2 separate regions of the Homo sapiens genome follow, and region 2 is linked to region 1. Evidence: fine-mapped expression QTL. A gene starts in region 1. The other region holds a variant in brackets. All regions are shown on one strand. Distances are from middle to middle. Region 1 holds the start of ENTREP2 (endosomal transmembrane epsin interactor 2). Region 2 overlaps ENTREP2 (endosomal transmembrane epsin interactor 2).

Evidence for each region. PIP is the estimated chance that this variant, and not a neighbour inherited with it, causes the effect.
Region 2: its variant is the best candidate, but not a certain one, in a credible set for the expression of ENTREP2 in spleen (GTEx, PIP 0.70).

What each region holds. Positions count from the first base shown.
Region 1 is chr15:29,569,198-29,573,197 of GRCh38, forward strand. It overlaps ENTREP2 (endosomal transmembrane epsin interactor 2), which reads right to left and starts at 1,782. Exons shown (of 11, transcript NM_015307.2): 1 at 1,308-1,782. The coding sequence starts at 1,526.
Region 2 is chr15:29,441,380-29,445,893 of GRCh38, forward strand. All of the region lies in intron 1 of ENTREP2 (endosomal transmembrane epsin interactor 2), which reads right to left. Among named protein-coding and RNA genes, the nearest start is that of ENTREP2, 130 kb to the right of the region's middle. The variant T/C (reference allele first, on the strand shown) is at 1,821.

The DNA.
Region 1 (4,000 bases):
ACCACACAGTCTGTTGTTCCTATTCAGCTCTCCAAGGCTCACCCTTGATCTAAAATACGCTTCGAAAATTAATACTCCCATTAGGATGAACAACCACACCTGTATCGATCGAGGTGTTCCAGAGGCAATTTTGCTCAGATCTTATGGTAAAAGCCATGCAATGAACTTAAAAAACAAAGACCATTATGAAATAAACAAATAAGCAAAGCTGGACGAATTTTTCAAATTTTAAAACTCAAGAACAAATAGCAAACATTAGTTTTAAAGGATTGGTTTGGATTTCTGTAGATGGAAGTAAAACATACTGAGTTTACAAGCCTATGCGATGTATTTCAGCACGATCCACCAAATGCAGTTACAGATGTCAAGAGTTCTCAGAACAAGTGCCTCTCTTCATAAATATCTGCTCTGCATATATATCTCTCCCATTCCCATAACGTCCATTCTTTGTTAATATAGGAAAAAAACCGACTTTCATCAAAATGCTACAAAACGCCAAAAATTAACTCTTGGGGACAGTCACTTTAATCGAGACGTCTTTCTTCTATGGAGATTTGTTCACCACTGGCTTCTCTGATTTGGTGGTTAAGAGTCTGAAAATCGGTCATCCTTAAGGTCTGGAGCTCAGAAAGCACGCCGCCCCCCCTTGCCTGCCCCCTGCCCCAGGACGCCGGATGCGGGTCGCCTGCCCAGTCCCGTCGCCCACAAACCACGCCGTTCTGGGCGGACGCGGGAAACCAGAAGTCCCCGAAGCCAAGTCAGCGAGCGACCACAGGGGCCGCCCGGCCGATCCCCGATATCCGGGCTGACCCAAAACCCGACGGGAGGCGCCCCTCCCCCGCCCCCCCACCCCACCCCCCACCCCCACCGCCCCCGGTCAGGGCCGCCGCGAGGGTGAGAGGCGCGCCCACATGCTGCTCCGCTCCGGGTTCGGCTCCCACCTCCTCGCCTCGGCCGCGGCCGCTCGGATGGCGAGGTCGTGTCCCCGGCGCGCGCGGTCCCCGGCGCTCCCTCCGGCCGCTGCGGGCTCGGAGGACGGCGGGCGCCTGGCTGCTGTTTCCTCCAAGAAAAGTAACTCCGGGAATCAGCGCAATAGGAGCGGGAACGCGATGCTCCGAGAGCGGCGAGCCGGGCCCTGGAGTTATTCTGCTCGGAGTTTCGAACTGCGCCCCGCGCTGCAGCTACTCGGCCCCGGCGTTGGCCGCCGGAACTTGCCGCCCGCGGTGGCGTCCCGGCGGCCGCAGCGCCTAGCCCCCCCGGCCCGCGCAGTCCCCGGAGCCCGTCCCCGCCTGGTCGCGGACACTCACCGAGAAGCCTGCCCAGAAGGGGCAGGAGTGGCGGACGCGGGCCGAGGTGGTGAGCGCCAGCGCGGCGAAGCTGACTGCCACGATGAGGCATCCGAGCGCCATCTGCGTGGCCCCGAGCGCCAGCACGATGCGGGAGCGGCCCGGGCACTCGCGCAGGCGGGACAGGCTGCGGGGCAGCGCGGCGGGACGCGGCGCTCGGGGGCCGCCGGCCGGAGGCATCGCGCCGGGCGCCCGCACGCCTCGCCCGCTCCCGCCCGGCCCGGCGCGCGCCGCCGCCTCTCCTCACAGAGGGTCCGAGGCAAGTTGCGCCGGGTGCAGGGACGGCCTCCCAGCCGGCTGCCAGGGCTGCGGCGGCCGCGCGCCGGGAGCGGGCCGGGCCGGGCGGGGAGCCGGGCGCCCGCAGCCCCCGCCGGTGCCCGCGCCCATGCCGCCGCCGCCGCGCCGCCCGCCCGCCGGCCGCGCCGCGCTGCGCCCTCCCCCGCCCGCCCCGCGCGCTCCCCGGCCCGAGCGCGGGCGCGAGCCGCCGCCGCTGCTGCCGTACCGGGCGCGAGCCGCTGCCGTCCCCGGGCGCGAGCCCCGCCGCCGTGCGCTGGGCCCCAGCTGGGGCGGGAGCGGGAGCCGGGACCCGGGAGCCGGGAGAGGGGCGGGGAAGGCGCAGGTGCGGTCCTGGCGTCCCAGCCTCCGCGCTCACGCCTCGCGCCCTGGCGGCTGCAGGTCTGCGGAAGGAGAGCGGGGGCGGCAGCGCATCAAGGGCAACGGCATCAGCCTCCGCGGCGGAGCCCTGGGTCGGCTGCGCGGAGGGGCCCGATAGCGGCAGCGGGCCAGCCGAGCCTTCAGAGCCTGGGGACGGCTCGGGATGGGCGCGCGGGGCGCTGAGGACGGGGAGACGGGCTGGGAGCAGACAGGAGGGAAATTCCGAGCGCTGGGCCGCAGGTGTGGCGAACAGGAGCCTCTTGAATGCAAAAATCCAAGATCCAAGATGCTGCTTTTCTGCAGTTCGAGAATCTCCCAAGCCATCCGCTGAGAGAACTCAGCTCTGGAGGACATTCCGAGAACATTGCCAGGACACACACGATGTCCCTTACCCACCTTTGGTTTGCATGCTTTTGATACAAGTTAAAAGTTTGGGCTTTAAAAAAAAATTGCACAAAACGAATTTAAATGCGCAATATCATTAATAACCGATTAAACCATCTCCACTCCCTCTTGCCAACATAGAGTTTAAAATATCTAAGTACTGGCTCCCTTGGAATACCGGGAAATCCTGCAAGTTTTGATTGCCATAATTCCTTTGTGGCCCTGTTGATGAGCCAACTTTAAGACTCTGCTTGTGTTGAAAAGGGCTGCATTGACAGATTAAGAGATCACCAGCGTTAGGGAGTCTGAAGGGACCAGACGTGAAAAGGCAAAGTTCAGAGTAATAAAGGGAAACGGCCGGTCATTTCCTGAGACCATTCTTCCGTGTCTTTCTAGCAGACCTTACTGTTGGATGAGAAACGCTAGAGAGTGTAGTCCCAAAATATCTCGGTTGCTGGTGCTTGAAATTTCACCGTTAGAGATATTGATTCCTTTGGGGCTTGACGATCCTCTATTAAAATGCAAATTCCCCTTGAAGGGGCTATAGCTCAAGCCTTTATCAGCCAACACTTTAGCAGGGATGGGATTTATTTTCCAATTTAACGAGATGGCCAAGGGATGAACAGGGGGTAGGGAATTCCACAGATAGAGTGACTGATCTCAAAATGCTGGCCCGTGGCCAAACGCTGCCTTCTCCCCCAGTTCTTATCTTTAACAGGACTAAGCCTCTGGCCGGCATTGTTTAAAGCACTCCAGTACAAATTCCAATTTCCTGGAGACATTTTCTGCCTAGAAGTTCGCAGTGCAGCACTTTTTAAGAGCTTGAAACAATACAAGGCATGACCCTGGACTGGCAGGAAGTTATGTTCGCATTTGATCATCTCCCCCATTCATTCATTCATTCATTCATCCGTTCATTCATTCCTCCAACAAAAGTTCATAAAGAGCTCTCTAATCATAAGGCTTTTTTTTTTTTTACGTTCTTAGGGTACATCAGTGAACAAAACAGACAAAAATCCCTGCCTTTAAGGGATTCAGAGAGAAACACACAATAGCCTAACAAATTAGTGAATTACAGTTTATTGACATTGTATACTATTCAAAAAATAGTATACACCCACTATGTGCCAGGCACTGAAGATCGAAGAATGAGTTGCAAGCCCCCTGTACTCAGAGAACTTTCGGTCTAGTGGGAAGACTGGCGGCACACTGGGTTCAGTGTTATGGAGACTACACAGTGCCCCCCCAACCCCACCCCCACCAAAAAAAAGGAATCAGATGATAAGGAGATTTGAAAAGAGTTTTCTGACCACAATACCAAAAATGGGTTGAGGGGTGCCCAAGTGAAAGAGTGTTCAGAGGCTGTTACTGTCAGCTGGCAAGAGGTGATAGTGTTTTGGATTAAAGTGGGGTTAGTGGAGATGTCGAGAATTGGGTGTGTTTGGGAGATGTTTCGGAGGTGTCAGTGATGAATTAAACAGAAGGGGGAGCCAGTTGGTGACCTCCAGTGATCTCCCATTTATGAATGAGAGATGCTTCCAAAATATATGTGAATTGATTTGTTTTATTTATTTATTTAAGAAAGGTACGGAAAGAGAGCTCCAAGCAATACAGCA
Region 2 (4,514 bases), 130 kb before region 1:
TCTGTGGATGGATGGTGGTAGTCATACGAAGGTGACTAATAATCCCCCAAATGCCCAATCCCATCACCCATTCTCAGAACTCCATGGCATTTGACACTGCTAACCAACTTCTACAGCATTAAGCCCGCTGCTCCCCAGCTCTCGTTCTGCAATTGTTGAGGGACAGTTATGCGCACGTGTGTGTGTGTGAGAATATACGTTATGAATTATACTGGGTGTGCATTTATGTACATATATGCATATAGACGATATTTTTTTAATTCCACTTACTGAACATCTACTACCATTATCAGAAATTACACAAGTATTTACATGCATCATCCCATATAATCCCCCCAAATTGCCCTGTATTGCTTCCTGACTCCATCTACACCATCACCAGTTTTTTCTTGGTTTCTTTGCTGGCATTGTCATATGGTGGAGTCCTTGGGGTTCTGTCCCTCCTCATCTGCCCAGGTGAGCTCACGCACTTTCATAGCTCACCGCCATCTCTGTGGTGATGGCTCTGAGTCTTCCTTTCCAGTCCAGGCCCATCTGCTGAGCTCCAGACACCACACCCATGTGTCCACCCAACATTTCCCATGAGCCTCTCAAAGTCAGGACAGCCAATACCAACCCAGTTCTCTCTCCATCCCTCCCTCCCAATTCCTCTCCAGCATCTATGCTCCTTGTTTTATAACCTCTGTTGCTGTTGTCCCCCTGAAGCACCAAGGGAAAGGAAAAGCCTCCTCACTGGGATTCCTAATGGAAGCGTTTGCACACAGTGACCCTCCCAGCACGGACCCCTTGTTAATAGATGGGTAGGAAGCACCAGGAACAGAGTATGTTCAAAATCAGATAAGCGTTATAAAAACTGGTATGGGGTCAGAGTGGAGATCATTTTCCAAACCAACTATTCGAACCACCCCATCGCCATCTGGGTAAAGACTGGGTTGTGCCTCCAGCAAGCTACTCTGACTTGGGAAGACCGTGTGCAACTATCTTTGGGAAACACAGCCGCATGCTCCTTGGCTGGAAATGATCAGAGGCTCTAAGGAGTGTAAAAAGGGAACACAACCCTGATTCTAATTTTTATTCTTGGAGAAATCACGTTTTATTTTTCATATCAAAGAGGGGGAACTCTGTGGGCAGAGTACTCTGCCGAGAACCAGTTCTGTTCTGCAACTTGTCCCAATCATCAGGAAAACACATGTTCCAGGGAAGCCCCCATCAGGGCACACACAGCCCCAAATCAGGGCATGCTGTCACTTCCTCTCATTCCCTCGAGAGCCCACCTGGCCAAAGAGGCTCCAGTGGCCTGATTGGAGGGCACATCAATAATATGGAGGGTCCCCGTGCCCCCCGACCTGGAAAGTCAGCCTCAGCGATGGGGCTCTCGGGGCCTCTTAAAATGGGAAAAACAGAAGATGAAAAGGCTGTTTGCACTTGTCAGCAATGCTGGCACTGCTCACTATCCATACTTTACCCTCCCCAATTAAAACCACACACTTGATCTGTTCACATAACAAAGCCTCCCTTAGAGCCCCCAGAGGTGCCTGCTCCCAAAACAGCACTGTCAGGGCACAGCCTCAGTCCTCACTGGACAGAAACCAGGGGCAGGGACCAATCCTCTCTCTGTCCCAGCCCTTTCAAACCAAAGACAGCGTCTCTGCGAAGGAGGGAAGCCGCATGTTTTCATGCTGAGATACAGTGCAGATTTATGATCGGCACCTGTGAGGTCCTCAGGTACCTCTTGCTGGAACAGAGCAACAGGTTTCTAAAGGTTCTGGCCCTTGGCCTCTACATTTGTCACCACTCCTGTGGTCACTCTTCAGTGGAAG[T/C]TGCTCACCAGCCTCCTTGTCCCACATGTAAAAGCCAAAAGGAGGGGCCCTACAGCACCACTGTCATTGGAATCCTTCCAACATTCCCCACCCACCTTATGCAGTGGGAAGACAAGGTTCCTACCAGACCCTCCAAAGCCCAGGAACCTCTCCCTGTGCTGACATCCAAAGATGCCCGGCGTTCCAAAACACCAGAAATCCAGGGAAGAGGCCCTACCTTGGGGATGAGTACATTAGGAAATAGCCAAGGAGCAGGATTAAGTAATTATACACTAGCCCACCAGGAAACCATGACACTGAACATCCCATGGGGCCCACGGGTCTGGTGGGTGTTTCTCGCCCACTGGGGGCTGGATAAGTGAGCATGAGGGTGTGCCCCAAGAAGTGTCCGAGGCAGAGCTCAATCCTTTAGAGGTTTATTTTGCCAAGGTTGGGATGTACCCAAGCAAAAGAAACACAAGTTACAGTAGGGTCTGCGGCCTGGGCTTTTCTCCAAAGAGGGGTCTGAGAAAGAGCAAGCAGGAGGGGAAAAGGAGAGAGGGGTGCCCATGAGGCAAGTGGTTACATCCTCGGAGGCTTTGATTGGCATTCAGTGAATCTGCATCTTACATATAAAAAGAAGGGGCCGGGCGCGGTGGCTCACACCTGTAATCCCAGCACTTTGGGAGGGGGAGGCGGGTGGATCACAAGGTCAGGAGATCGAGACCATCCTGGCTAACATGGTGAAACCCCATCTCTACTAAAAATAGAAAACATTAGCCAGGCGTGATGGTGGGCGCCTGTAGTCCCAGCTACTCAGGAGGCTGAGGCAGGAGAATGGCGTGAACCTGGGAGGTGGAGCTTGCAGTGAGCCGAGATCGCGCCACTGCACTCCGCCTGGGCGACAGAGCAAGACTCCGTCTCAAAAAGAAAGAAAGACAGACAGAAAGAAAGACAGACAGAAAGAAAGACAGACAGAAAGAAAGACAGACAAAGAAAGAAAGAAAGAAAGAAAGAAAGAAAGAAAGAAAGAAAGAAAGAAAGAAAGAAAGAAAGAAAGAAAGAAAGAAAGAGAAAGAGAAAAGAAGGGGATAGGGGAAAAGCCAAGTATGCATTCTTCTCAGGCTCAGCAAATCTACATTTTATATAAGCAAGCATGTGAAATCACGGCTATCCGTTGCGGGGTGCGGGATAAAAAGGAAAGTGGTTTTTTGCATGACTCAGTTCTCAAGCTTAACTTTCCCTTTGGCATAGTGAGTCTGGGGTCCACAGCTTCCTTCTTTTTTTTCTTTTTTTCTTTTTTTTCTTTTTTTTTTTCTTTTCTGTCACCCAAGCTGGAGTGCAGTGGCTTGATCTCAGCTCACTGCAAACTCCGACTCCCAGGTTCAAGCGATTCTCCTGCCTCAGCCTCCCGAATACCTGGCACTACAGGCGCCCACCACCATGCCTGGCTAATTTTTGTATTTTTAGTAGAGACGGGGTTTCACCATATTGGCCAGGCTGGTCTCGAACTCCTGACCTTGTGATCCGCCCACCTCGGCCTCCCAAAGTGCTGGGATTACAGGTGTGAGCCATCACACCTGGCCGGCAGATTTCATTTTCCTTTCACAAATGCGTGGTCTACTGGACAAGCCCTGAGATGAAGATGGCTAGAGAGGCTCCACAGTCCCTGGAGGGGGGCACTGGCAGGCGGTCCACGGCCACTCAGGCTGAGACCCTGGCTCTAGAAAAGGGAGGAAGTGCAGGTACCAATAAGGTTTAAGGATGGATGTATCAGACTGTGGACAAAGACTAAAAGAAACAGGGCTGCCAGCCCAATACTGACACCTTGCTTCCTCATAGAATAGCAGATGTGTTGGGGTGGCAATGTGCCCAACTGCTATGGTCTAAATGTTTGGGTCCCCCCAAAATTCCTATGTTGAAATCCTAACACCCAATGTGATTGTATTAGGAGGTGGAGCTTTTGGAGGTGATTTGGTGATGACGGTGGAGCCCTCATGAATGGAATTAGTGCGAGATACTGGGATTTACAAGAAGAAATATATATCTGCTCTTCTTGTTTCCTGGCATGCAGCTCCTAACACTTGGAATCTCCAAGGTGATGTGTCTTTTTGTGTGCTAATAAGATGAGTGGTAGTGAGGGGCTTCTGGACAGCCTCAGGATGGGGGCTGATTGCCAAGTGAACCAACCCTGTGATTAGAGCGTTGGAACTTTCAGGCCCACAATCCCACCACCACCCCTCACCTTAGGGAAGGGAAGAGGGGCCAAAGGTTGAGTTAATCACCCAACAACCAATGATGTAATCAATCAAGCTATGCAATGATGCCTCCATAAAAACCTAAAATAACTGGATTTGGAGAGCTTCCAGTTGCTGAGCACATGGAGGTTCCTGGAGGGTGGCGCCCAGAGAAAGCTCCACACCCCTTTCCACAAATAAGAGGTTACCCTGTGCATCTCCTCCATCTGGCTGTTCATCTGTATCCTTTGTAATATCCTTTATAATAATTGGGTAAATGTAAGCAAGAATGTTTCCCTGAGTTCTTGAGCCATGCCAGCCATCCCACTCCTGGAGAAGGGAGTTGTGAGAACCCCAATTTATAGACCATCAGTCAGAGGTACAGATCACAACCTGGGATTTGCAACTGCCATCTAGAGTGGAAGCATCTGAGCCCTCAACCTGTGGGATCTGATGCGAATTCCAGGCAGACAGTGTC